4 linked regions of the Homo sapiens genome follow. The protein of the gene in region 2 interacts with the protein of the main gene of each other region in a biochemical or structural test. Each region holds a gene or a part of one and is shown on either strand. Other genes may lie near its edges.

Region 1 (7,026 bases), on a different chromosome or scaffold from region 2:
TATTGTTTCTTATAATTGAGTTAGCCAGGTGATTCTTTAGGTCTCAGTTGATTTGACTGGGGCAGGATGGTCCAGGATGACCTCATTCACAATCTAGGACCACAGCTGGGGCAGCAGGGATAGCTGAGGTCTCATCCTCCAGCCTGTGAAGTTCATGCTGCTTCCCATGGTGGTCCTCCTGGGGTTCCTAGCAGCAGAGAGAGGGAAACCTCAATGTATAGGCACTTTTCAACCCTCTACCTGTGTCATATTTGCTAATAACCCTATTGGCCAAAGCAAATCACATGGCCAAGCCTAGCTTCAAAGCATGGAAAAACCGACTCCACTCTTGATGGGAAAAGCATTGAATATGTAGGCATATTATAGAGAGACATGCCTACAGGGGTGGCAGGCATTTGCAGCCATCTTTCCTTGCCATGTGTCGTCATCCCCTTCTTGCATGAGTCTTCCTAACCTACCCCTGTAGCCGTGGCTCGTTAATGCAGGGAAAAGTGATGGGTAGAATGTCTAAGAGACTTACTAATCCCAAGCACAATGAAATTTGAAGAATTACTGGTTGGTGGAGGAATGATCATTTTGTTTGTCTAGATAAGCACTTAAAGGAATGCTCAGTTTGTAAAATGGAATACACCCATGGGTCCTAGATTTTTGTGTCCTGGATCACTAAGAACCTAATGAAAACTATGAACTGCCTCCAAAAATGCATGTATTAATATGCAGTCTTGTGAAAAGTTTTAGGGTAGTTGTAGATCTTAAGAACAGTTCTATGAAATGAATGTGTTTTTATAAGAACTTGTACGCACCACTTTTTATTAGAGAAAGCTGAGGTGGTGGATTTAAGGTTCACTCTTATGGCTAATGGGTCTTCCTTTTTGTCAGTAAGATCAGAAACACGAAAAAGGTCGAGCTTGATTTATCCCACGTTTCTCCATGTCTTCTCTAGACTAAAATTGAAGCATTGGTGTGGATAAAATTTGCAGTGCCATGATCCTGTGAACTGTCAGGCTAGCTCCTTTCCTGGAAGTGCTTCCTGAGTAATCCCATGCACTCTCACCCCATGAGAGCTACAATTCAGATCTCACAGTTGGTTATTTTTAAGTAAGATGGTTTGAGATTTTGTGTTATTTAACCATCAGCCAAAGCTAAAGTTGTATAAGCTAGCCTGCCCTTAGGTCCCATAAAGACATCCAACTAATGCAGGTCTTCCCAGGTGGACATGTGGGTGTCACTCAATGTCTGATGTCCTTTCTGCTTTCTGGAGGTAGCAGCTAGGCAGTGAGGACATATACTTATTTTTGCTAATGAGACGTAGAATCCCAGATGAAACTTGAAAAACGTCATTCATGCTTAATGGTCAGAAACTGTACGAGATTTTAAAACTGAAATAATTCCCCAAAGAATTTCAAAGCATGTCAGTAACTCCATAGGGAGTCCGACTAGGAAACTTGGCAAAAGAATTAATTACCTTACTGTATTTGTTCAGCCTTTGCTTTCATTGAGTATTTTTCACATGCCAGGTATTGTGGTCTTAATTAGTTTATTCCTTTGGACAAAGAGTAGGCAATATAGCAGAATCAACACTTGGTAAATTTTCTCTTTGAAAAGAAAAAACAGGAGTGGGGAAGACTAAATATTTAACTCCTTTGAAAATGTAGAAGCAACTGAGGCTGAGGGCTGCAGTGTGATGACTCGGTGACTTAACCTGATCTCCTGATTCAGATTCAAGGAGGTCTGCCCTCACAACCCCTGGTTTCATAAAGCACTGCCACAAAGGCACTTTGGAATCTTGCTACAGTTATTATAAAACAGAGGGAAAAAATTGAAGTAGAATGTAAGTGAAGTAAATAAATCTTAAACGTACAGTCTTTTGGATGTTTGTGTATGTAAAACTCTCACCCAGATTTACACAGGACGATGATATCCAGTATAGTTAGTAACCACTGCCCATAGGTAGCTATTTAAATTAAGTAAAATTCAAAATTTAGTTGCTGGCCAGACTCGGTGGCTCACGCCTATAAATCCCAATGCTTCGGGAGGCCAAGGCAGGTTGATTGCTTGAGCTCAGGAGTTCAAGACCAGCCTGGGCAACATGGCAAAGCCCCATAGCTACCAAAAAAAAAAAAAAAAAAAAAATATATATATATATATATATATGCATGCTCCAGGTGTAGTGGTACATGCCTATGGTTCCAGCTACTCAGGAGGTGGAGGTGGGAGGATCCACTTGAGCCTGTGAGGCAGAGGTTGCAGTGAGCTGAGATCATGCCACTGCACTCTAGCCTGGGCAACAGAGCAAGGCCCTGTACAAAAAAATAAAATAATAAAATAAAATTTAGTTCCCTAATCACACTAGGCACATTTCAGGTGCTCAGTGGCCTCATGTGGCTAGTGGCTACCGTATTATAGAGTGCAGGAATAGAATATTTCCATCATTGCAGAAGGTCCTATTGGACAGGGCTGGTAGAGGATATTGTGAACATCCTGCAGGGCTCTCTTGTGTTCTTCTGTTCAGTGTCTCCTCTGAAGATTATATCTTTATATGTATCCCCATAGTTAGTAGTGCCTGTTCTTGATCTTCAAATAACAAGCATTCTTTCTTTTTTTATCTGTCGCCCAGGCTGGAGTGCGGTGGCATGATCTCGGCTCACTGCAACCTCCACCTCCCGGGTTCAAGCAGTTCTCCCGCCTCGGCCTCCTGAGTAGTTGGGATTACAGGCACGCACCACCACACCTGGCTAATTTTTGTATTTTTAGTAGAAACGGGGTTTCACCCTGTTGGTCAGGCTGGTCTCAAAACTCCTGACCTCGTGATCTGCCCGCCTTGGCCCCCAAACTGCTGGGATTACAGGCGTGAGCCACCACGCCTGGCCATAACAAGCATTCTATATTGTATACTCTTGGTTCAGGGAAAAGCACAGATCGAGGGAGCTTATTCCTGGAATGCTAATCCTAGGGCTCATTCTCTGCCTTGTGTACTCCTCCAGCATGAAGAAGTCCATTCAAGTGTCCTCAAGAGTCTAGTTTATTGCTTCTTATCCAGGTCAAGCTTGTCCCCCAGGGGACATTGGGCAAAATCTGGAACCATTTTTGGTTGTTAAAACTGGAGGGGGGCTCTAGTGGTAGGTAGAGGACAGGGATTCTACTTGAAGAGTATTTCATTGACCTTGTGTAGGATTCAGGTGCTTGTTAAGATTAGCCAAAGGTCCTGAATTTGAAGTTTATGAAGATAGTTATTATGTTAGGCAAGGGAGATTTAGAAGCAAATTTTTACATTAAAAAAATGGAGCTTAACAATCTAATAAATGATTGAAAGATTTGAATCAGCATTTCTCCAAAGAAGATTTAGAATGGCCGGTAGACACATAAAAAGAAGTTCCACTTCATCACTCATTATGGAAATAAAAATCAAAACCACATGGAGATACCACTTTACACCCACCAGCAAAGCTATAATCAAAAAGTTGAACAATGACAGGTGTTGATGAGAATGTGGAGAAACTTGAACCCTCAGGTTGCTGGTGGGAGTAAAAGTGACGCAGCCACTTTGGAAGATAATTAGGCAGTTTCTTAAAAGTTTAAACACAAATTTAGCATACAACCCAGCACTTCCACCCCTAGGAATCTACCCAAGGGAAATGAAAGCATGAGTGGAAACAACCCAAATGTCCATCAGCTAGTAGTGGAATACTACTCAGCAAGGAAAAACAACTTGGATGAATCTCAGAAACAGTATACTGAAGGAAAGAAGGTAGACAAAGCACTATACATGTATGATTTCATATTATGAATGTACAGAAAAGGCAAATCTATACCAGCAAATAGCAGGTCAGTGGTTGTGGGCAGGGCACGGAGGGGTTGGGAGAAGTTAGGAAAGGGGATTGACTACAGACAAGCTCAAGAAAAATTTTAGGAGTGATGGAGATGTTCTAAAACTGGATTGTGGTAATGGTTGCACAGCTTTTTAAATTTGTGAAAAACCATTATATACATAAAATCTTATCTGCATATCAATCATCTTAAACAAAGCAATTTTCTCCCTTGGAATAATATGTAATGATAATTGTTTTTTTTTTGAGACCCGCTTTGTTGCCCAGGCTGAAGTGCAATGGTGCCATCTCGGCTCACTGCAACCTCCGCCTCTCAGGTTCAGGCAATTCTCGTGCCTTAGCCCCACAAGTAGCTGGGACTAGAGGTGCCCACCACCTTGCCTGGCTAATTTTTTGTATTTTTAGTAGAGGTGGAGTTTCGCCATGTTGGCCAGGCTGGTCTTGAACTCCTGACCTGAAGTGATCTGCCTGCCTCCGAAAGTTCTGGGATTACAGGCATGAGCACCATGCCTGGCCTTATAATGATAAGTCTTAAAGGCTAGCTGGCTCAGGGATTATATTAAGGAAAATACTAATACTTGGTCATCTAGAAAACCCACGTGGGACCCTTATGTACAAAATAAGCCATACTGAAAGATGTATTTGAATGTCATTCTTCATGTCCACATAGATGCTGGTCTGTCCTTTGAACCATTATGAGAGGTGACTCCAGTGAGGTTCCAAAGTCTGGTTTATCATCCCACACACACACCCCCCTCCCCACTGCCCGCCTTTCTTGCCCAGGCTGGAGTGCAGTGGCACCATCTCAGCTCACTGCAGCCTCCACCTCCCAGGTTCAAGCAGTTCTCCAGCCTCAGCCCAGTCGAGTGGCTGGGATTACAGGCACGCACCACCACGCCCAGCTAACTTTTGTATTTTTAGTATAGCCGTGTTGCCCAGGCTAGTCTCGAACTCCTGACCTCAAGTGATCCACCTGCCTCGGCCTCCCAAAGTGCTAGGATTACAGGCATGAGTCACTGTGCCTGGCCTCATCACCCCCTCTTTTAAAGAAATCTTCCTCGGCTGGGCACAGTGGCTCACACCTGTAATCCCAGTACCTTGGGAGGCCGAGGCTGGCGGATCACGAGGTCAGGAGATTGAAACCATCCTGGCTAACACGGTGAAACCCTGTCTCTACTAAAAATACAGAAAATTAGCTGGGCGTAGTGGCAGGCACTTGTAGTCCTAGCTACTCGGGAGGCTGAGGCAGGAGAAGGGCGTGAACCCGGGAGGCAGAGCTTGCAGTGAGCCGAGATTGCACCACTGCACTCCAGCCTGGGCGACAGAGCAAGACTCCATCTCAAAAAAAAAAAAAAGAAATCTTCCTCATAGCCCTTGCCATTCCCTTCATACCCCCTTTCTACCAGCTGTAGTGTGCAGAGAGAGCAAGGGGTGCCTTCTGAAGCACGCTTTTTTTCTCTTTCATTACAGGCAGCAAGCTGCCCGTTGGGGGACTGTATTCAAGTCAAGGTGTCACAAACAATAAGACTATGCTTGCGTTGGGGGATGGTAGAGGGGTTGCTTACTATTATCTGTGCTTTCTTACCTAATAGGCTCTGGATTACTGCCACAGCAAGGGAATCATGCACAGGGATGTGAAACCTCACAATGTCATGATAGATCACCAACAGAAAAAGGTACCATTACAGCCAGGCAGCAACAAGCTTGATTAAAAGGCTTAGAGCAGACCAAAAAGCTGTCCAGTGCCATGATGGTTTCTGTAGACCCGTGGTGGGTTTTTTGGCAAACTTTCGTTACTGTGATTTCTCCCATCTCCATTGTTGATTTCTACTTTGTATAGTGTAGTACACAAGGAAAGTAGACGGTTTAACTATAGTAACTAACTATAGTCACTTGTTTATTTTGGTCATAGTTTTCTGGAGGGCCTCAGAAAGAAATTACAGCTGGTGGTTTCTGCTTCATTTCTTGATGACCCGCAGACCAATCTGCCTGGCCTTAAAAGAACACTTGGGTCCCTCCTATTTTTGATATCCAACTCTGTTGGCCCTAATCAGTGAGTAAATGGATCATCTAGTATTAGACGAATAAATCATTAGAGCAATGCTTCAGTCCTGGAGTGGGATGTGTGTCCCCAGCCCTTTCACTGACGCCTGGAGCTTATAACGAAAAGCTATGAATGATGGGAGAATGTGTTACCAAGTGTAACTGCCTACAGTTTCTGAATGTGGGCAGAAAAAAAGGTTGAGCTCTGTTGATCTAGAGAGAGGGATGAACCAGGATAATTTAAAATTTTTTCAAAAAGCATTTCAAGTGTTCTGCTCTAAAAATGACCTCTTGCACGATTGCTGAAAATGTAATTTTTAAGCCAGTGCACCTGCTCACATTTTTTGTGTGGCCAAATGATTGTTACCTAATGTGATGTGGCCTTGTTCTAAGGCATAGGCGTCTAGAAACACTCCTTTCACATGTTTTTTTCTGTCCTATTTGTAGCTGCGACTGATAGATTGGGGTCTGGCAGAATTCTATCATCCTGCTCAGGAGTACAATGTTCGTGTAGCCTCAAGGTACTTCAAGGGACCAGAGCTCCTCGTGGACTATCAGGTAAACTTGTTAGCAGAGCTATTCTGGGTTATTTATACTTGCTTAGGGCTTTTCTGGTTTGCTGTTGATCTAGTCAGTTTGAATACACTCAAAACCCAGCCATTATTTCACCCTAAAATGCTGATTTTAGTTTTTTCTCAGCTAGTTTTTTGGGGGGACAGAGAAGTTTTTAAATCTAAAATATCTGCAAAGGTTAAATGAAGACTAGAAATTCAGATCATTTCTAGGAGCCAGGAAGTTAAAAAAAATTTTTTTTAAATAAATTATCTATGGCCATACCACCCTGAACACGCCCAATCTCGTCTAAAAAAGAAATTTATATCAGAAAAATGGATTTCTAATACCCTTGGCTAATGCGTTGTCCTTATTGCCTCAGATGTATGATTATAGCTTGGACATGTGGAGTTTGGGCTGTATGTTAGCAAGCATGATCTTTCGAAGGGAACCATTCTTCCATGGACAGGACAACTATGACCAGGTGAGCAAATGCTTTCTGGTTCTTATTTATTTGGGGGTGAATGCCAAAAAAATAGCATCCTTAGATAAGAATACTATCCTTGAGCCACTAAGTATCACTCAGTGTCTGCATATGAGCTTT
Region 2 (7,026 bases):
TCACTAAATGGTAGTTTTTATGGTTATTATTACAGTAAATTCTCACAATAATCCTATAGAGTACATAGGCATCATCTCCCTTTTCAGGTTCAGAGAGGTTTAGTAAAAAGCATAGCTAGGAATAGTAGATCAGGAATTCAAGCACCAATTCAAGATACAAACTGCTCTTGGACCTATGGGCGGGAGTGTCGGGGCAGGAATCCACACCCTGAGAAGTAAATCTGTTTTGACACTCAAAGCTTACTTGGTCAAGTGTTGTCTGAGAAACAGAGTAGTCTTCTATGTGGAGTCGCTTTTTGCTCTGGGAGAGGATGCTGAATATCCTGGCCAGAGAAGATAATGAAGATGGAAGCTGGTATTGTAGCATGTTCCGGTGTTTCTCTTTTAGAACACTTCCAGGAAATGCAAGTCCAAAGAAATCCTGGACAGGCTTCAGGTCCGGGTTGGACCCTGCTATTCGTACAACTATTGTATAACCATCTCCAAACCTGAAAGCAGGAAAAAATACCCAAATGGAGGATCTCCAGAAAACTATTTAAAAGAATACTGAACCCTGGGAACCCAACTTGTGCCATGAAAAAGGGCGGCCCCTGGCAGGCCCAGAAATAAGTTTCTGAGAGAAGGAACCAGTTATCATTTACTAAATACTTATTTTATGTGAAGCACCATGCCATGTGCTGTAAATACATGATCTCCTTTAATCCTCACCTGGACCCATGAAGTCTGACAGATGTTACAGAGAAACTGAGGCCCAGGGAGTTAGTCACTTGCCCATGGCTCAGAGCTCATAATTGGTAGGGCCAGGATGCAAACCCATTTGTGTTTGACTCCAAAGCTTGCGCTCTCACCAGTACTGGCACATGTAAATTTTTTTCATTTCATCTATAGCACAAAGCTAGGAGGTAGATCTTCCAGGGAAACTAACTCTTACAGTAGTTAAGTCACTTGCCCAAGAGTCACAGAACCAGTAAATGGTAAAGACAGAATTTGAATGCAGTTCGGACTTCAAAGCCCTCATTCTTTCCACTATACTGTTTTGCTCAGTTTTATTTCCCTTTATGTTAGAGGCACCATTTATATACTCACAAAAGAATAAATATCAAGCCTTCTCACTAGGCACTATCCCAAAGAAATTATCTTTATTACCTATTTTTTAGATGCTGGACACTGCCAAGGCACCTGAACCTTCCATTGACCATGATTGCCATCCTAGTGCAAAGAGCTTCACATTCTTCCATACTGCGGTAAAACAGAAAGAGGTTTTAGTTTTAGAGAGATTCTCTGTAACCATGAGAACATCACCATGACTTCCAGCATTCCAGCTTCCTAGGGAATTGTATTCTGTTACAAGTACATGTGGATATAGGGATGATGCTGTTCAGTGTAGTGGTGTTTACAATTGTGAACAAGTTGGAAATAATCCAAATGTCTACAAAAGGGGGAATAGTTAAATAAGAGTATATCCTAATGGAATACTATCCAGCTATAAGAAATGACACCTAAATGCACTGACTTGGAATAATGTTTACAATATATTAAGTGAAAAAGAGCAGTATTTATACTGGGCTTGCATTTTTGTAAGAATATGCATATATAATTTCAGGTAATAATTGTTTTACTCTTTGCTTTTCTGTATTTTCTAATTTTTACAAAATGATCGCATATTCTACTTGGAAAGTTAAAACATCCCACAGTGAGGAACCCAAGACTTTACTACGGACCTATGAGATGTAAGCACTACTGATCTCCCCTCCTTGACAACACTTAGGGCACAATTCCACAAGAACCGCCGGGCTTTGGGATCCATGCCTGTGGTGGGTTCATCCTGTAATTAGAATAAAATAAGTCTTATTTGCTGGGGGGAAAAAAAATCAAAGATAAATTTGTTTTTAAATGCAGAAGCATCTTTGAAACAGCTTAAATTTTAACTTGCCATTCTAGTTATTTCTTGATGAATCAAAGAATTAGAGTAACTTTCAAATTCATTTGTAAACAAGGTCATTATTATAAATGTCTTATTGATGCAGGAAACTCAAATATTCTGAGTACTTTTTTATGTAATTAAATTTCTCCAAATAAATAGGGAAGGAAAAAGGCCATTTAGTTGTAATTATCTTTTCATGACTGATAAGTATATACAAAACAACTTTTTGTCTGAAACCTCTATTGAAGTCAGTATAAGATTGGGGTGAAATTCCTTTTTTTTTTTAATTCCAGCTCACTCAGATTACCCTAGTATATTGCAACTGTTAGCCTTACAGAAACAAATTCCAGACCGAGGTGGAATACATAAAAGCCTCAAAGGCTTCTTCCCGTAATAACATCAATGCTCTTATCTACAGAAGAAAAAAGGTCAAGGGCCACTTCCCAGTCTGATCTGTTTTTCATCTATCCGTGTGTAAGGAACTATGACCTAGTTGCTACCTTGGGGATTTTAAAGCTGTGTCCACACTCTTCATTTTCAGGGAATGAACACAAAGATGATTAGAAAGAATGTTCCAGAGAAAGATCAAATCACATATCCAGCCTCAATCACGCTAAGAAACAAAGTGCTTGGAGTGCCTCTATTTGGGAGCATCTGCAGGCATGGTACAGCCACCCCAGTGTGTGCCAAGGGAGAAGCTTCCCTCTGCTTTTCCAAGGTTGCTCTGCTGTCCCTGGGGGAAGACAAGCCAATCATACAACAGCCCTGGACATATAGGACTTTTGAACAGTCATGTTTTCCACTCAGGCCAGAACAACAGTTTTCCATCCACAGTTATACTCACCAGAAACACCACAGGAGGCCCGCCGATCAAAGCCATGGCTGTAGAGAGCTTGCGTTTGTTGCCTCCACTATAGTTACCAGCATATTTTTCTCCATACTTCACGAGGCCCAGTTTCCGAATCGCCCACTCACCAACCTACAGTGATAAAAAGCACCTTGACTTTGGTCTGGCTTGGGAATTTTATCATGCTGTCCTACACATACATGTATGAAAGTTCTTTCACTGAGTAGGACTAGATTCTATAATCATAACCTGACAACTGGTGAGGAGCCAAAGCAGGGAGAAGGGACTCGTGTGGTGGGAGCAGCACTCCCTCTCTGCCCACCCAGCCCTGCCCCACCACCGTTACAGGTTTCCACCCTGAAAGCAGATACAAAGAACCAGCATTTTGTGCTGCTGCATTCATGAGGAAAAACAGCCTGAAGTCAATGCGTGTGGAAAAGCCATAAGGTATATATTGTCAGGATGCCAAAGGAGACAGGCTGGCTTTCAGGTGCCCACAGTACCTTGCCAACTTCTTTCTCTGGGACTCCTCTCAAAAGGGCAAAGAACTCCACGTGTTCTCTCCCAGTCAACAGCTCTGTGATGGCATCAAACTGAGGGCAGTAGCCCATGTTCTGATGTACTTCATGGATGTTTGATAAGATACTGCAAAGGACAAGAAAACTACTTAGATTTTAAGCAGGTAGAGATACTCTGGTTAGACAATCTGGCCTAATGTTCCTGTAAAGTATGCTTCTCCATTACAAAGATACCAATACATCTGCTGCTACTTGAAAGCACAGCCTTTCTGCCCCCAGGATGCTAGCTCTTCCTGGCAGGCAGGGTTCCTGCCTCTACCCTCCCCAGTCCTTGCACCTCCCTGGCTCTCTGAACACTTCAGTCTGCAGGTGCAGTCCCATTTCAGAATTTCTGAGGTCATGCCAACCACTGCACATTCTTTACCAACAATCTCAGTCACACTACCCCAGGGCTTTAACGCTAAGGCCCCATCCTAGACTTCACTCATATGCACCATTCACATGCACCAAATGAGAAGGCCCAGAAATTTTGAGTGTGAGCAACACAGAACCTAGAGACACAATTTATGTGGTGGTGGGGTGGCTTTGGGGTTCTATGAAGCCAGTCAAGTGAAGAATCACATGTGAGAGAAGTTCAGTGTTCACGTTCCAGACTGATGACTGCACCTCAGCCACAGCGGCATTGCCATGAACTTGGCCTTCTGGCAGCATTCATTCCTCTCTGTGTATCTAATTAGCACCCCCAGGGTCAGCCTTTTTCAGAATTAGGATTGAGGCACACGTGGACACCGTGCCAGGCCCTCACAGCTATACCAACCAAATCAGTTCTTACAACCAGTCCCTGTGACAAACCTTACTATGGGCTGGTTATTACTGCCACTGCTATATGCGTCAGGAGCTTGGTACTAGGAGCAAGCCTAGGAAAGCAGTTGTGCAGCGCTAGGCCTGCTATTCCCAGAATGTCTGTTCTCTTAGGATTCCTTTACATTGCTACTGCAAAAATGTAAGAGACAGGAGAGGAGATCATGAATACATTAATTTCCTTGCTCTTTTCAATTTTATTGGCTATCCCCCTGTCCAGTGTGTTCAAATTGTGAGTCATTGTTCATTAGTGGTTTGGGAAATAAATTTAGTGGGTCATGACCAGCACTTTTTTAATGACGCAGTATAAGGTAGAATAAGAAATAGCAGAGTGCACTACAATTAGTAACAGTAGGTACTGCTTTATGAAACTTTAGGTTATACATGTGTCTACATGTCTGTGTGTACATACTAGGTTGAGATATAAAATGTATTTCCCACAACGGTCATGGTCAAAAAACTCTGAAAGCCACTGCCTTGTACTATCTCTCCACATAATAAGTCCAGAGAAGCCGGGCGCAGTGGCTCATGCCTGTAATCCCAGAACTTTGGGAGGCTGAGGCAGGTGGATCACCTGAGGTCAGGAGCTCGAGACCAGTCTGGCCAACATGGTGAAACCCCATCTCTACTGAAAATACAAAAAAATTAGGCAGGCATTGTGGCGGGCACCTGTAATCTCAGCTACTCAGGAGGCTGAGGCAGGAGAATCGCTTGAACCTGGGAGGCGGAGGTTGCAGTGAGCCAAGGTCGCGCCATTGCTCTCCAGCCTGGGCAGTAAGAGTGAAACTCCGTCTCAAAAAAAAAAAAGCCCAGAGAAGCCCCACATATTTAAAGTACTTAGAGTAACATTATCTAAGAAGCCTATAAAATGTAGCTGTATTCCCAAAGATCAGATTGCTTTGTGACCTGTGCAGTCTCAGAAAATGGCCTAACGGTGGCTCAGTCAATTTGTATGCTCTTTAGAGAGGGCAATTTACTTTGTAGGAATTGTTCCTGAGGAAATAATAAAAGATGTATACAGGGACATATTTACATAGTGAAAAATGGAAACTAATGTGTCCAACATTTATAAGGAATTTATTAAATAAATTATAGGTACATGTACATAGGGGGATTTTATGTAGCAATGTAAAATTCCACATCTTAGGAAATGTAACCCACTGGGAAATATTCATAATACACTCATTAACAATAAAAACTAATTTTAAATTCTACATACAGTATGATCTCAATTGTATGGCACATTTATATGTGTATATAAGACAGATGTGGGGTGATGGAAAAGTTCTAAAACTGGATTGTGGTGATGGTTGCAAAACTCTCAATTTACCAAAAATCACTAAATTATACTCTTAAAAAACAAGCAAATTATATTGTATGTAAATTATACCTGAATAAAGCTGTTAAAAGAAGAGAATGAGACTGAAAGGAAATGTAAATTGTGATTATCTCTAGATATTGAAATCATGGATGATTTTATGTGCTTCTTTACCCTTTACTATATTTCAACATTTTTATGAACTCTAAAAATACCACTGTAATCAAAAATAACAACCTATTTCTTTAAATAAATTAAAAACAAAGTCTTTGCAGCAAAATACAAGCCACTTCTTTTCTCACCTATTTTTGTTAAGGAAAGCATCTCCTCTGGTAACAGTGGTATCTCCTGTTAACATCTTGAAAGTTGATGATTTTCCAGCCCCATTAACTCCCAGGAGCCCAAAGCACTGAAAAGGAAAGATTAAGTTGTATAAGCAAACTCTAAAAACATGAATATAAATGCCCCTAACACGTAACTACCTCAAACCTTCAATTCTTAAATATCAGAGAAGAATCAAATATTTTCTTGGTTTTAACACATCGTATAGATATTTAAATATGTATTTCATAATGGGACCATTTTAAGTGTGGCTGTATTTATAAATATTATTTGAGTTGTCAAGTTGAGGCCAAAGTTAATGTGTGAAAAACAGTAATGAAAGCCAGCTAGCCAAATTGCACCACCTACTCTGGCAAAAGGGCATAAAAGAACACAAACGGAAACCAGAAAGGAGAAAATCTATTTTTAAAAAACTATTTGAATGTCATCACCATCCCAAATGGATCACAAAAGCATGTTTTAGATGTGCGTGCTTTTTCTGTTTTTGTTGTTGACATGAGTCTCACTCTGTCACCAGGCTGGAGTGCAGCAGCGCAATCTGGGCAACCTCCCCCTCCTAGGTTCAAGCAATTCTCCTGCCTCAGCCTCCCGAGTAGCTGGGACTACAGGAATGCACTACTATGCCCAGCTAATTTTTGTATTTATAGTAGAGATGGGGTTTCACCATGTTGGCCAGGATGGTCTCAATCTCCTGACCTCGTGATCCGCCCACCTCGGCCTCCCAAAGTGCTGGGATTACAGGAGTGAATCACTGCGCCCAGCCCCATGCTTTTTCTTAAATTGTATTGGATTCTCTGAAATCATTCTCTTGACATACAGGGTCCCTCTCTTCTCGATGACTAATTGCTCCATCCTGGCATAAATACAGAAGCCTTTAAAATCCACTTTTACCTCTTAACGAGCATCGTTGCTTGATTGGGTAGAGATAGTCTGAACTAATAGGGACAAACGCAATATAGACAAAGTGTCTTTACCTCACCAGGAGGAATGCCCACGCAAATCCTGTCAACAGCAGGCTTCCGCTTCCTTCTATATATCTGCAACAAACAAAATGTAAACATTCATAAGCCTCAGTGACTCACAGCTCTCCCAAGCAACTGTGGAAGGCAGGACTATAAACCACATACACTGCAACATAAGACTTGTCAATAACCCTAAGCCATAGGCATATTTGATGTGCCAAGAGCCTTGGTCTGCGTTTGTGGCGACTGGCTTC
Region 3 (7,410 bases), on a different chromosome or scaffold from region 2:
GGCAGCCTGATGCCAGAGACCAGACCACTATTCTAAAGCAGTAGCATTGCCCCACCTAGAATGGAATGAATAAGATTGATATTTTCTAGTGAGGCACTACCCAGTCCCCCCAGTCAGTCTGACCTACCCACCTGGACATGCAGCCCACCTTGCTTCAGTTGTAAGGATGGAGGGGGCCTGTGAAGTACACCATTTTAGCGTCCTTTGGGGAAAAATGTAGCTAAGGAAACTGACATGCAGGGGGGTTGAGGTTCTCCCTTAGGGCTCCGTAGGCAAGCTAGTAGAACAGTAGAACCCACTGACCTCAATCCACTAATCCCTTACTCTTGAATGATGAAAATTTGTGGTATCCCTGAAGGGCGAGACCCAGAGAAGTGACCAGGGCCCTGGGCACACAACTGCTCATATGCAATGACTCAAGGTCACCCAAGGGCACAGGGTATTGCATGACAAGGCCAATCACATCCAATGGGTCATGAACCTCCTTCTATGGTACAATGAGGCTCCAAACCAGGGGCTTCCTCCTGCCAGAGGCTCGGCATGAACCCTCACTCTGGTTAGGGAGAAGGGTGTTTATCTGTGAGACTGGAGGAGACCAAACACCCAGTCTGCCCTGGAGATAGCACGACTGACAGCAAAAAGAACTCTCTGCCAAGTCAGATTACAGCAATGACAACTGGACATTTCCCCCGAAAGGCCCATGGAGAATCACATTTTGTGGGTCTGTTGCAGGATGAGAGCCTTAGAGTGGGAAAAGGAAGAAATCACAGCCAGCCAGCAACTCCTAAAAGCTTTGCCTGTGAGGCTAGCGGAGACAAATCTGCCCACCTTGTTTGATGACATTGTTTAAGAATTCTCCTGCCTGTTTTCTTTTTCCAAACTGTTAACATTGCAGTTAATTACCTACAATTAATTACAATAACAAGAACTATCAAGGTTCCTACAACTGCAACCACATATGATCTTTATCTTGATAGAGTCAGACTCTCTCCTCCAAGCAACCTAGGAAAATTCCTTCCAAAGGAAGAACCTAGCCTCAGTTTAGCACCAGTTAACACCAGGCATTGGTCGCTGGATGCTAACATATATTAGCTACCTCATTTACTTCTCACAACCACATTAGATCATGGGGATTATTATCTCCCATCTTACCGATGAAGAAACTGAAAGTCAGAGAAGTAACTTGCTCAAGGATATAAATGAAGGAGATTGCACATTTTTCCATCAGGCCTATGTCCACTTGAACCAATGGGTGGAGTTACCACAGGAACTCTGGACAGGACTTGTGTGTAAATTACCCAACAGACCAACTGCATTCTAGTCAATCTGACTCTGAATTCCAGTCTTTGTCACTTCTTTTCTTTCTTCTACCTGGGGGTACAGTGTCTACAGCTTTGTTCCTTTAGTACTCAGACATGCTGACATACAGTGATGAAATTATTTATTTAATCATAAATTAACTACTGTGAAAAGCACTAATCAACCATGGTAAACCAGAGGCAATGTAATCTTGAGGAGAGGTTTAGATGCACTTTTATCAGAAGATCCAAGCTTTGAATCAAGTGAGAACCTTAGTAAGAGACAAGTGGTGGCCAAACCCCCCCCCTTAAACTCACAAGCTTGGGGAAAATAATAAACAAAGGTCAGTTAAGGAAGAACAATAGGGACCTCCAAACAGTAAGACAGAAATTAGCAACAAGAACTGGGCAGATTCTTAGTGGTGAGGAACGACTGTCTGTCTAAGGCAAAAATGATCTCAGCTTGTTTCAATTCATACCTTGGGAGAATTTACATGCATTTTGTATTTCTGGGTGGATGAACAGGAGCATAATTCCTAACAGATTATTCCCTTGCAAACATCTGCTAACTTAAATCTCAGAAAAACAGCTGATGTTGGAATCTAGAATGAAGTGTCTCGCAGATTTATTTCTTTTTCCAGTTTTTCCAGCTCATCCCAGCAGGCAGCTGGGCTTAAAAATGGTTTCCTTTCTCTGACAACAATATTGGCTAAAGAGTTTGACTATTGGGCTGTCAAGATACAGGCTGTGTGATCAGGATTAAGAAAACAAAAATGGATCCTAGAGGTAAAATTACTTTAAAAGCCAGGTCCTGGCAGAACAACTTCCTCGGTATATTTGCTATTAAAAGAAAAAGAGACAGAAAAAGCCAAAGAGGTCCAAAAAATTAAAAATCAGACCTGAAGTCACATTCTTGCAGCAATGAGGGAATTAATTCTTACTGTAACCAAAGGTCAGCAGGCAGCCAGTCCAGGTCTAAATGTAAACAAATTCTAAATGCACACTGCAAAGTCGTATTTAAAAGAGTGTTCAACAAAGAGCAAAGAAAATGGTAGACTTTTTCAGAGAAGAGAGGAAAACTGGAACGCACAGCTTCTGAATAGGGCAACAGAATTTGCCCTGAGGAACAGGTTTTCAGGGGGAAAGAAAAAAAAACTAGGGACACTTCACAGGTTTAGATCAAAATACAGGGAGGAAGAAAAGGAAAAATAAGAACTCTGAATCCAGTCTGCACTGGCCTCCTAGCCCCCGTTAAACGGGCTGAACAGATCTGCACCTTCGCGCTAAGTTTCAAAACAAAAGCCTTCACTCTACTTCTCTTTAGGTTGTTGTTGTTGTTTTAATCAGATCAAGTACGAGGACAAGCACAGGCTGGATTAATGATCAGAGAAACAAAAAGGATTAAATATCTGGCCTGGGAGAAGTTTATTGTGCAACTAGAATGTCAAAGTCATCTCTCTACTCTTCTGTCTCAAAAAAGCTTCTCCCTCTGGGGCAAACACTAGCGACAAGCCGTTCAGCTTGTATTTTTTCATTCAAATTCCGTGTTCAGATCCCTCAGGGGCCAGTGGTCTAAATGCCAAGAGAGAAAAATGGAGGGTTTCAACTCACCTCTTCAAGCGACTGTCTGGGGCTCTCCAAGCAGCAGCAGGCAGGCAGCTCTCATTCCTTGTGGGTGAACCGAGCAGCTCCTTGGGCCGCCGGAGTTGTGACCAGCCTCAACTTCGGTGAACAGGTGCCTGGAGGAAGGAGGACGGCATTGGTCGCTCCAGACCAGGAAATGGGTGACATCACGGAAGCCCCGACAGATAAAGCATTGCTGAGACCTTAGGGATTGAAAGAGTCAGGAGGCCCCGCCCACCTGTCATTTACCTGAATACCTGCAAGCAGGTAGGTGGCGTCTCTTTGTGGACAAATAAATCAGTTAGAGCAATTTGCCAGGTGGAATTTACTTTCTTTCCTGAGCACAGCACGTGTCCAGCCCCGTGTTCAGATCTGAAGTCAAATGCCTGGTTGTTTCCCAGGCCCTCCCCTTTCCCCATATCTGCCCACAAAGGAGTTAAAAGGGAAGTTTAAACACCAAAATGAGACAGTAATTTAGCAGACACAAAAAGGAAGAGTGTGAAGCCGAACTTCTTAGAAATATCTGAGGTGCCTTTTCGAACCGCATCCATTTGAACACCAAGTGTTTCTCTAATTCCAATAAAATGACAAATTTAAGTTGACATTTCCAATTCATCTTTTAAACAATTTGAAATAGGATACCTGTCAGCAGTTTCAAAGTGGTTTTCAAACACTTTTGCGCTACCCCCTCCCCCGCCCAGCATTTTTAATTCCATATTCAGGAATTTGCAAAACTTCAGTCATTCCTATCTCGGCTGGCTTGGCAGTTAGAGTCATACGGCAGTTACAGTGCACTGCAGGCCTGCAATTAGGAGCAATTTAAATGATTCAGATTGGAATGGTAGTACTGTCATTAGGCGATGTTGTCTGCTGATATAGCCAGGAAAGAGACGTCAGAGTTATTTCTGTCCCAAGCGTGGTGTGTGACCCTGGACAAGTCACTGGTTGCTTCACCTTTTCCAGCAGGAAAGGAGGCGTAAACTCATCCAGCACCAGAGCAGGCAGCTGGGAGGTATCCCAGGACTGTTAAACTCTCTGGCATCTTCCCAGGAGGGCTGTAAACATCTCCCATCATCCCATTGAAACGCTGCGTATTTTTACCACCTGCATCCAGCATCCCTGGAACTCATTACCTGAGGAAACTGTGGATTCCCCGTCCCGGAAGATGGCCTGCCTGCCCAGAGAGAATTTTTTTTCCCCTTCAGGAAAATAAATGTTGACATTCCTATTTTCCTCCTACTTTTGCCTCCCTCGTCTTCTTCTTTCCCTCCTCCTGATTTTGGGAATGCTTTTGTTCCACCGGTTTTAATATTGGACTACCTAGAGGTTTTGGGGTTTGGTTTGGGGGAGGGTGGAGGAAGAAGGAAAAATGGGAGAGGGAAGAAAAGGAAGTCCGGATTCCCACAGCCTGGGCCTCAGCTGGCTGCAGTCAGTCAATAGCTCGCAAAGCAAGGGGGAGGAGAAGGAAGAGAAATTGTAGTCGAGGGCGGGGTCTGGGGGCCGGCTCTGGTGCTCGACCTCAGGGGAGCTGGCTCCTGTCCCCGATCCGCCCCAGACAGGTCTAAGCTACCTCTTTGCACCTGGGAACTCTGTGCCTTTTGAGAGTTGAAGGCTTAAAACAACAACAACCACCACAACAAAACTATTCACCTTTTTATCCAATAGAAACTAAGGTAGGTGTGGCTATTCCTTTATTATTTAAAAGAAAAAAAGGGAGGTAACAAAACCTTTTACACTCAGGTGTTTCAGGAAAAGGTTTCACGCCACTAGTTTGATAATTGAGAAACATCACTCACACAAAGGCCCCCCTCTTCACGCGGACAGGGTGTCCCCTGGGCAAGGGGGAGGGGAGGGAGAGCCCGCCAACCTGATGAATCATCTAGAAGGCCACGCCTTCAGCGGTCTTGCCTTTGGCGAAGGGCAGGATCCAACTTGGGAGGGGATCACAGGCTTCGGTTCAAGGCCTTGGGTGGGCAGGGGAAGGGTGTAGGTGAAATGAATTCGCATAAAGCTTCACCGAACAGCCTGGAGATCGTGAGGTTTCACTTGCCATGTTCACATACACACAGTCATCTACATATGTGGTGTGATGAATTGTTGTAAAACAGAAAGAAAATAGAGAAATAAGAGTTAATCCAGGAGTGGAGCTAACTCCCAGGTATAGTGTATAAAGGAAGAGAAAAAACTACACAATTAGCCTTCTCAGGTGAGATCTTTCTTGGTACTCCTGGATTTCGAATAATATGCAGGGGTTAAAAAAAATAATATGGGCTTTTTTTTTGGGCCATTAGGGCTGTTACATTATCATGGAAATTATATTTCTAAACTACTAGAAAAAAATGTAATCATAAAAATGAACATTGTGTTTAACAGGTGCTACTTATTGTTCTGAGCACTTTATACAAGAACCCTGTGTCAGGTATCATTGCTATTTGCATTCTACAGCTGGGAAAACCAAGACATAGTGAATCTGAGAAACTGCCTAAGGACAAGCTCATCGGCAAGCGGCAGAGCAGTTTTTAATCAAGGCCCACTTTTTAACCACTGGAAAGAAAAGAGGGAAGGTTCTGATTTCATGCTCACTGGGACACTTCCTGGACACATTCAGCTTCTTACCCATTATTCAGAAGGAGAAGTAGAAACCTGTAGAAGTAGCCCTGGGGAGGGTAGTTTCTGATAAAGGATGTCTCCATTTGGAAATTAATTAGTAATCTGGTCTATATGCTGAAAGTGTGTGTATAATATATATATATATATGTATATATAAATATGTATATATTCATAAATTCATGCATATATTTATGAGAAATCATACCAGGAAATCCATCGCCCCTGGGTGCACACTTGAAATCATCTTTTGAGAGCTTATCAAATCAACCCCAAGATGGAAGGCCAGCTTGAGGGACCCCTCAAGAATGACCAGTTGTAACTCTCTATGACATCTTTTATGGTCATTTTTCTCTGTAACTTCTGCGGCCTATCACTTTAAAATCTGAAAATTTAATCCGAGTGGCCATAAGAACATGGAACTGCATACATTTGGAAAATATGAGACAATGAAAAATTAAGTTTCATTATAAACCACTACCAGGAAGAATGGTTTAGACTAGGCTTGGCAAATCCTGGACATATAGTGCTCCATTCCCCCCTCCCATACCATTCTCACTGTCATTGCTAAAGACCATGACACTTTTCAACTCAGAAGGAACTTTGGAATCTTGAAGATATTACTCCAGGCACACTAGCAGTTGGTTTTACCCCCCAAGATCAAACCCTTTTCTTTTACTTTCTTACTTTCTTTTCTTTCTTTCTTTTTTAATTTTTTTTTTTAGAGACAACTCTCCCTTTGTCATCCAAGCTATAGTGCAGTGGTGCCATCATGGCTCACTGCAGCCCCAACCTCCTGGGCTCAAGTGATCCTCCCACCTCAGCCTCCCAAGTAGCTGGGACCACAGGCACGTGCCACCATGCCCTGCTAGTTTTTAAATTTTTTCTAGAGATGAGGTCTCACTATGGTGCCCAGGCTGTTCTCAAACTCCTGACCTCAAGTGATCCTCCCACCTCGGCCTCCCAAAGTGCTGGGATTACAGGTGCGAGCCACTTGGTCCCCTTTTCTATCTCTAGTTGGACAGTAAGTGAGACAGAGAAGAGGGCTGATCAGGAAGCAAAAATATTGGTGTTGGCTGGTGCCATTGGGGAATATTTCATGAAGAAAGGAACATGAATTGGGCCTTGAACGATTTGGAGAGGTGGTGAGAGGGCACAGATCATTCCAGACAGGGCAGTGGCATGGGTGGAACAGGAATGATCATAGCAGATATCTGTTGGGGAGGAACATGTGTGTGGTGGGGGAGAAGAGGAATACGAGACAATGAAATACCCACCTTGCTAGGGTGAAGAGGATCCACTGATTGCTAAATTTAGATGGGCTGAGACTGTAAAGAGCCTCGGGAACCTCAAGGGCTAACTGCTTCATGTCCTCACATGCCTGTTGACTACTTTTCTCATGATGATTAAACAGCTTAAGAAAAAGAAACTCAGTATCTTGGGCATGGGGTAATTTCTTATGCATGACAATGGTTTTCAGCATTGAGCTAAACTTCCAGGATATGCCATTTCGGCAACCACATGATCTTTCTCTTTAGGAGCAAGCCTCTTTTGCAGTCAACATATCCTGGAAACTTTGTTCTTTGGATAGGCAGGTGGAAAACATTAGAAAGCTTTCTGAACTCAAAGTTGGGCCTGTCCTAGTTAACCAGCCGGCTCACTTGGGCTTTTTGATTAGTTTGAATTCCTTTATATATCTTGACAGGGAAATCTAAGGGGGGAAGGAGGTCTGTCTTCAAAGCTCTTTTCTTGTAGATCCCCCCATGAAGCTTGGCGTTCTCAAGGACTCCTCCTGGCAATGAACCTACAGCGAAGACCATGCCTTGTGATTCAGCAGAATTACTTTGCCCATTTTGCTTCCTATTTTTTTTTCCCATGACAT
Region 4 (7,026 bases), on a different chromosome or scaffold from region 2:
ATAGTAGGTATACTGTATTGTTTAGGGAATAACAATGGGAAAGTTGGTACACGTTCAGTACTGACACAATTTTTTTCCAAATATTTCTGATCTGAAGTTGTTTGAATCCACACTTGCAGAACCCACAAATACAAGGGTCAACTATAAATACTCATTAGAATACTAAATGAAAATATCTTATTTAAGAGAGAATTATCTACTTCAGCCTTGCTATCTTATACCTAACTAGTCTTCCGTGCCTTTCTTTCAGCAACCCACTGTGGGCCGTAGGAATTAAAGGCTGAAACGTGACTTAAGAAAGCAGTGGTTCTTTTAAATAAAACAGAAGTTAGAATATCATAATTAGTCAGAAAATTGAGTTTAAATTAAAGCTCTACCTTACAAGCTACGTGAGTCACCTTAAATCTGAGTCTTAAAACCCTCCTACATAAAATGGGAATACTATTATACTATTTCATAGAGCTGTTTTGAAGACTTCACAAGACACTATGAAAGCAAAAAGTGAAAACACTCTACAAATGCTGTTTAATCATCATTAGTATGTTTACCTCACGAAAAAGTATGGACATTCTGTTTTTAACTTAAACATTGTTCCAATTTACAACCCTAGTGATCAATTTACTCTGCACCTTGGCTTTGTTGAAACCAGATCTCTGCCTAGGAAAATATTAGCAACAGACTAGATACATTCCAAAATTGTTTTGTTAAATAGCAATATTCAGGTGAAGATGTGACTTCAGAAATAAAAGGTAACTGTAAGAAGAGAATAAAGACTATATAGCTAAGTCAACCCAAAATGAACAGTAACAACCACCGTATGATAAATTAACATCAGATAAAATAAGACCACTCTTTGTATTTAAAGAAAAAAATATATACAGTTAAGTCCTCATTTAAGTTATTGATAGGTTCTTGGAAACCAAAACTTTTAGCAAAACTGTGTATGGCAGGTTCTCAAATAATGTCATTTTCTTATAACACTGATGAACGAAAGAAGTGATTTCATTGTATGTTGTTTCACTGAAAGTCACACTTTCCAAGAGCCTATCAATAACACTGAGAACTTACTATGTATATTTAAAGAGCAACAAGCACTAGCTATTCTATTATATATCATATGAAACTTAATTTCATCTAACCAATGTCTCCTATAAACCAACTGATGAATATAGTATTACGAACCTATTATCACTTAAATTAATGACTTTTAATTTTTGCATATCACCCATTTCCTCTGGAAGTGTCTCAAGTTTATTGGAATGGAGAAACAGCACAGTTATATTTTTCCAGCTTCCAATCTGAAAGAGAAATATAAACTGAGTATCAAAAAATTTGGCCTACAGGTTGATCAACATATAAAAAACATCATTTTTGAAAGTTATGAAAAATACTTCACATTTATAGAAGAAATAATGACTAGACTTTCTTTTTAATTAATTTTTATGTACATAAGAAAGCATTTAAGAACCTCTTCTAAATTAACATAGCTAATTATTCAGAAAATAAATAACTTGAAAACTATTTTAGAAAGAAAATAAATGAAGCCACACTAAATAGCTATAATGAAGATAATCAGAAAAAAATGAAAAGACAAAAATCTAAACAAATCTAAAATACATTACCTCTGGGGGCAACTGCTGTAAGTAATTATGATCAGCAGCAAAAGTTCTTAAGTTAGTAAGCTGCCCAATAGATGAAGGCAAAGCTTCAACTTCATTGAAACTACAATCCAGTTCTTCTACTGATATTAACCTTTAATTTAAAAAAAGAAATATATATTATTTGTTAAAGATTTCCTATATATAATCCAAAATTTCAGAACATATAAACATTTGAACTTGACTTTGAAAACCTAGTGAAACCATTTCACAAAGCTAAACTTCACCAATAAGTAGGTTTGTCTATCATAAACACACTCAACCTGTATACTAATTACTTAAATGTTTACAAAATCTTTAGGTCATTTATGCAAATACCTGAAAATATGTATGGCATGCTGAACTGAAAGTAAAATCTTCGAGGGTGTATACATTCACAAAAAACTTACCCTCCTATAGAGTCTGGCAGATACATTAACTGGTTTTCATCTATTTTAAGCGTTGTTATATTCTTCAACGAACCTAATGAGGGAAGAAACAACATACAATTTTTCAGCTTAAAATAGAAGCAAGTCCACCAACAGTCAGTGTGAGACATACTACATCTGACAAGAATTAGAAACAACTTTCCTAACAAACGTATCTAAAAGAGATACCACTCCCAATCCCAATGTTCTATTCCCTCATCCTGTCCTTTCAATCTTCATCCACATCACTATTTAACATAGTGTACATTTGTTTATTAACTCCCACTAAAATATACTGATAGTAGGAACTTTTTTGTCTTCGTTGTTCACTGTTGTAGCTCTGCTTCTAAAAACAATGTCATGGCACAGAAAAGACAGACAATACAAACTTGTTAAATTAATAGACTAAAGAAATGGTAGTATGAAGGTAGTTCATAACAGGTATATAAAAAACTATTCCATATATACTAAATACTAAAACAGTAAAATATTTTTTAAGTTTAAAAAGTGTTGACTAAGAGTAGAATCGTAACAAACTTACAAAAATGTAGTTTTAGCTAAAACCACTACGTGATTTAACTGAGAAATATTTTTGGTTTTTAAATTAAAACATCAAAAAGATGTCAAGATTGAAGTTTTGGGTCCTTTCATCAAAATAATTCAATTCCATTGACATATCATTGAACAAGCAACTACACAGACTCAATCATAGATCTCTCATGATCTGTTCAACTGATCTGTTTTCTTGTCTGAGTGTCTGTAATGAAACAGGACTGAAAAAAGTTACCAAAATAAAAGCTATGACAATAAAAGCTAACAGTTAAGCCAAATTTGCATAAGTTAACTTATTTTAAAGAATTTAAATATATTAGAAATAAAAATGAGATTACCTTAGAGTAAATAAAAAACAGTAATGTCAACAAAGGAGCAAACTGTACAACTGATCACACCAGGAAAAATTCAAATAAAATCCGTTCCTGTGGTAACGAAGTATAACTACCTCATAACAAGTGAAATTTGAGATTATGTGGAAGTCTCGAATTTATTTTAATAAAAATTACATGAATTTGAAAGCAATACAAACCAATAGTCTCAGGAAGCTGCTGAAGTGAATTGCTTGATAATAGGAGGTCTTGAAGGTTTTCACATGTTGAAATTCCTTCTTCAACCATTTCAATATTATTTTTAGAAACATCCAAATATGTGAGCTGTTTCAAACTACCAATAAACTATAAGTAAAAAAAGAAAATCTAATGACTCTATTAACATTAGTAATTTGTAAAAAGTTTAGGGAATAAACTTGATACCAAGTTTTAATTCAAAATTAAATGCTAATACAAGAAAGAAGACTCCCAGGTAGTTTTTTAAATGCCATTAGAAATGTATTCAGTAATATAGCTAAGATGTTCTACTAATTGTAGCATAGCAGAAGTGACAAAGGACATATTCTTTGGGAATTCAGGTATCCATTACCTCCTAAGGAAATAGCATATATGGGGATTCTTGTGGTTTTTTTTATGGGAGTAAACAATTTGTCAGTTGTTAAAACAGAAAGTTCGGCTGGGCGCGGTGGCTCACGCCTGTAATCCCAGCACTTTGGTAGGCCGAGGCAGGCGGATAATGAGGTCAGGAGATCGAGACCATCCTGGCTAACACGGTGAAATCCCGTCTCCACTAAAAAATAAAAAAAAATTAGCTGGGCATGGTGGTGGTCACCTGTAGTCCCAGCTACTCAGGAGGCTGAGGCAGGAGAATGGTGTGAACCCAGGAGGCGGAGCTCGCAGTGAGCCGAGATCGCACCACTGCACTCCAGCCTGGGCAACAGAGCGAGACTCTGTCTCAAAAAAAAAAAAAAAAAAAATTCAGAAAGTTCATGAAAAATATCCTAGTTTACCAATTCCTTGGGCAAAGCAAATTGGGACGTAAGTTCAAGTGATACCATTGGAAAGGACACACTCAACAGTATTAAAAGGAGACATACAAATGTTTATTATGAGAATTCTTAGATTATAATCAAGAATGTGCTCATGAAAAAAAGTAATTTGCTTCTGTTTAATAAAGAATAATTCAATTTTTTTATTAATTAAAAGTAATTATAAAAGGTACAATTCACAAAACTGCAAAGGAGAGCCAGAAATAAGTGATGCCATTTAAAATCTCATATACATACCCCTGGAATAAAAGTCAGTCTATTAGCATCCATCCAAAACTCTTTCAATCCACTTAGTTGCTCAAGTACTTCAGGCTGTTGGGATTAGGGTAGGGGATAGCAGTAATTCAATTAATTTTTATGAATGTCTTTATCTGGCAAAAGAAGCCCTGGGAATTTCTAATAACCTTTAGTTTCAAATCATTAAATAAAAGGAGCAGGGAGAAGGAAAAATAAAAAAGAAGAGCCAGGATGTAAGCCTTTCTACTGCATTATAGTTACTACAGTAAAATTATTATAGAAAATTATTAATGGAGAAATCAAAGAGACATGCCATAGCAGTAGATTACAAAAAACACATTTAAGCTTTGGATTACACAACAGGGGCAAGTTTTTATATAATTTGTAAAGAAATAAAAAATAGGACTCACTGCTTAGAAGTATACAATAAAAATATGCACTCATGCATTATCAGTAAGAAGATACAGCTTTTAGAAAACAGAAAAATTACAAATGTTCCCTGGTGACATTCATTAAGAAGGAGATAAAAGACAACGTGCATCCTAAATGTCCATAATCAGGGAAAGGTAAATAGACAAAGTCATAACTACATGATACAAATATACTGTAATTTAAACCTCTAGTAAAAACTTCTAATTACATGGTAGAAAATTCTTTATAATATGGTGTTGAGGACATCAAAATTAATCCAAGTGTTGTGGCAGACCTTCATATCCAGGCAAAATTTGCTCCTGGGCATTGTCCCTTCAAGTCTGCCCTCTTCAAAGTTATTTCTATCACCTCACAAAGCCATCTGCAATCAATGATCATGTGATGGCACAGAGTACTATCACATCTAATGACCATAGTTAACAGTCATATATAAAAGGCATGCCAATCAGATTTACTGTTAACATATAAATATAGATAAGAATCCCAGATGTAACTTGGATTAAAAGAAATTTCCTTTTGTGCATTACTGTTAAATTCTACTGTAAGTTTTAAAAAGTGTATAATGTTGGAAGACCAAAATGGTACAAAAACTAATGACGATTTTGAAAGCTTGTTGGATTCTTAAAATGAACGAGATTTTTGAAATAGTTAATACGGAAACGGATTCATACAGAACAAATATTGAGAAAGGACGTAACAGATAAATAATTTGGGAAGCACAGCATGTATTTTAGAGAATGAGGTACTCCAAAGTACCATGTTCCTCCTCAAACCTCAGCTGAAATTTATAATATTAATATAATACCCACAGGGCAATACTATAGCAAGCAGTTTTGAGAAATTCCTAGGCTTAAAACCATCATTTGAGAGCTACCACACTTTTAAACAACAAACTTGTAAACTAATTTAAAAGTTTAATAATGATACTCAGCTGGATGAGTTCCTCTTCAAAAAAAAAAAAATCTAGCTTATTTTCTGAGTTCTTTTGGAAAACTCACTAAAGACAAAAGCTACTTAAACACTACTCCTTTCCTTTTAGAGTCAGCTTCATAGCGCACTTGGCATACAAAGCACAAACAAAAAGGTTCTCATTACCACTTCAAAAATAACAGTTGTTTCACTCAATGATTTTCCCCTTAGCTATTAAGTAACATTATAGAGAAGTATCTTATTACTGAATAAGTTAACAAGCAATACCCCATGGAGCTCTCTCTGATTCAGAACTACTTTTACCTGCTGCATTCCAGACTGATGTTTCCCACTTATAATCACTCAAATTTTCTGCTTCCTATGCTAAAAATTGTTTAGTATCTCTTCCATGGACCTCTCATTGATTTTACATTTTATGCTCACTTGTGGTCAGAAGTTCATCTGTCTGGTTAATTTTTCTATCTGTCTGGAAAGTTCTGGCTAAGAAATTTCATATCTTGTAACTAAGAAAAAAAAGTAAACCTTTATCCAATTTGTAAGAGAAATACATTAATTTTCATATTTTGTTCTTCATTAAATATAAGAACTTAGGGAAAGTGAGACTGATGAGAACTTACCACTTCCGTGAATTCGTTACTTCCCAAATCCAGTCTTTCCAGCTGGGTCAGTCTATTCATAGTTCTGTTCATAATGGAGTAATGAAAAATTAACTAGAAAAATATCAATTACATGGAAGCTTTCAAAACAGTCTAAAACATTCTTATGGAATAGGTAATTATTTATGGGCTTTCACATGTTGACAAAATAAAAATATTAATTTTCTAAAAAATTTTAAAAGTCAGATTTCTAGATAAAATAATTATCAGTTATTATCTTATTTTGCCTTCTCATTGGTCTTTTCATTTCTATTTTTAAGAAGCAATTGCAATAAATTTAAACCCACAAGCCAGAATACAAATAATGAGTTTCTATTTTTTCACATAATGAATTTTCATATAGTACAAGTCAGCTAATAAATGTTGGCAGATGTATAATAATTACTACCATAATTACAAAAATTCTTTTTCAAAACTGCTCATATATTTGTAAGACTTTAAGATAACTGTAACTCCGAAAATTAATATTCAAAATGCTAACAGTACGTTGTATTACTCCCCACATGTTCAAATTAAATACAATACAATTCAAAATAAAGTTTTATATGAATCACAAATTAGTAGTTGACATTTATTTTAAATAAAAGCAATAATATACTATTCTTAACTTCCAACTTAACATCAACACTTCTCTGAAATTACAGGAACTTGAAAGATGTACAAACCAGTTTGTAATGAAATAAACTATGTTGCACTTCTATCTTTTCTCTCTCCTTTTACAAAGGTACCCTTTGAAACTAATTCAAACAAATATTTACACTCTTAAGTGGCTA

Evidence for each region.
Region 1: of the proteins of ABCA1 (region 2) and CSNK2A2, one has a biochemical effect on the other in vitro, tested with the Homo sapiens proteins (one study listed by BioGRID).
Region 3: of the proteins of ABCA1 (region 2) and LNX1, one has a biochemical effect on the other in vitro, tested with the Homo sapiens proteins (2 studies listed by BioGRID and IntAct, with this or other methods).
Region 4: the proteins of ABCA1 (region 2) and ERBIN interact in a test that uses a peptide from one of them, tested with the Homo sapiens proteins (2 studies listed by BioGRID and IntAct).

The regions. Positions count from the first base shown.
Region 1 is NC_000016.10:58,167,087-58,174,112, reverse strand, and holds part of CSNK2A2 (casein kinase II subunit alpha'), read left to right. Parts: intron 1-2,826; exon of another isoform or gene 2,827-3,643; coding exon of another isoform or gene 3,644-3,748; intron 3,749-5,419; coding exon 5,420-5,503; intron 5,504-6,317; coding exon 6,318-6,428; intron 6,429-6,804; coding exon 6,805-6,906; intron 6,907-7,026.
Region 2 is NC_000009.12:104,785,152-104,792,177, forward strand, and holds part of ABCA1 (phospholipid-transporting ATPase ABCA1), read right to left. Parts: intron 6,848-7,026; coding exon 6,785-6,847; intron 5,878-6,784; coding exon 5,771-5,877; intron 5,749-5,770; exon of another isoform or gene 3,417-5,748; coding exon 3,275-3,416; exon of another isoform or gene 2,904-3,274; coding exon 2,769-2,903; exon of another isoform or gene 2,466-2,768; intron 1,826-2,465; coding exon 1,722-1,825; intron 1,240-1,721; coding exon 1,147-1,239; intron 489-1,146; coding exon 245-488; intron 1-244. UniProt on the Homo sapiens protein: Catalyzes the translocation of specific phospholipids from the cytoplasmic to the extracellular/lumenal leaflet of membrane coupled to the hydrolysis of ATP.
Region 3 is NC_000004.12:53,588,479-53,595,888, forward strand, and holds the start of LNX1 (E3 ubiquitin-protein ligase LNX), read right to left. Parts: upstream 3,009-7,410; 5' UTR 2,910-3,008; intron 1-2,909.
Region 4 is NC_000005.10:66,020,574-66,027,599, reverse strand, and holds part of ERBIN (erbin), read right to left. Parts: intron 6,279-7,026; coding exon 6,215-6,278; intron 4,311-6,214; coding exon 4,236-4,310; intron 3,295-4,235; coding exon 3,150-3,294; intron 2,121-3,149; coding exon 2,048-2,120; intron 1,753-2,047; coding exon 1,623-1,752; intron 1,299-1,622; coding exon 1,183-1,298; intron 1-1,182. UniProt on the Homo sapiens protein: Acts as an adapter for the receptor ERBB2, in epithelia. By binding the unphosphorylated 'Tyr-1248' of receptor ERBB2, it may contribute to stabilize this unphosphorylated state.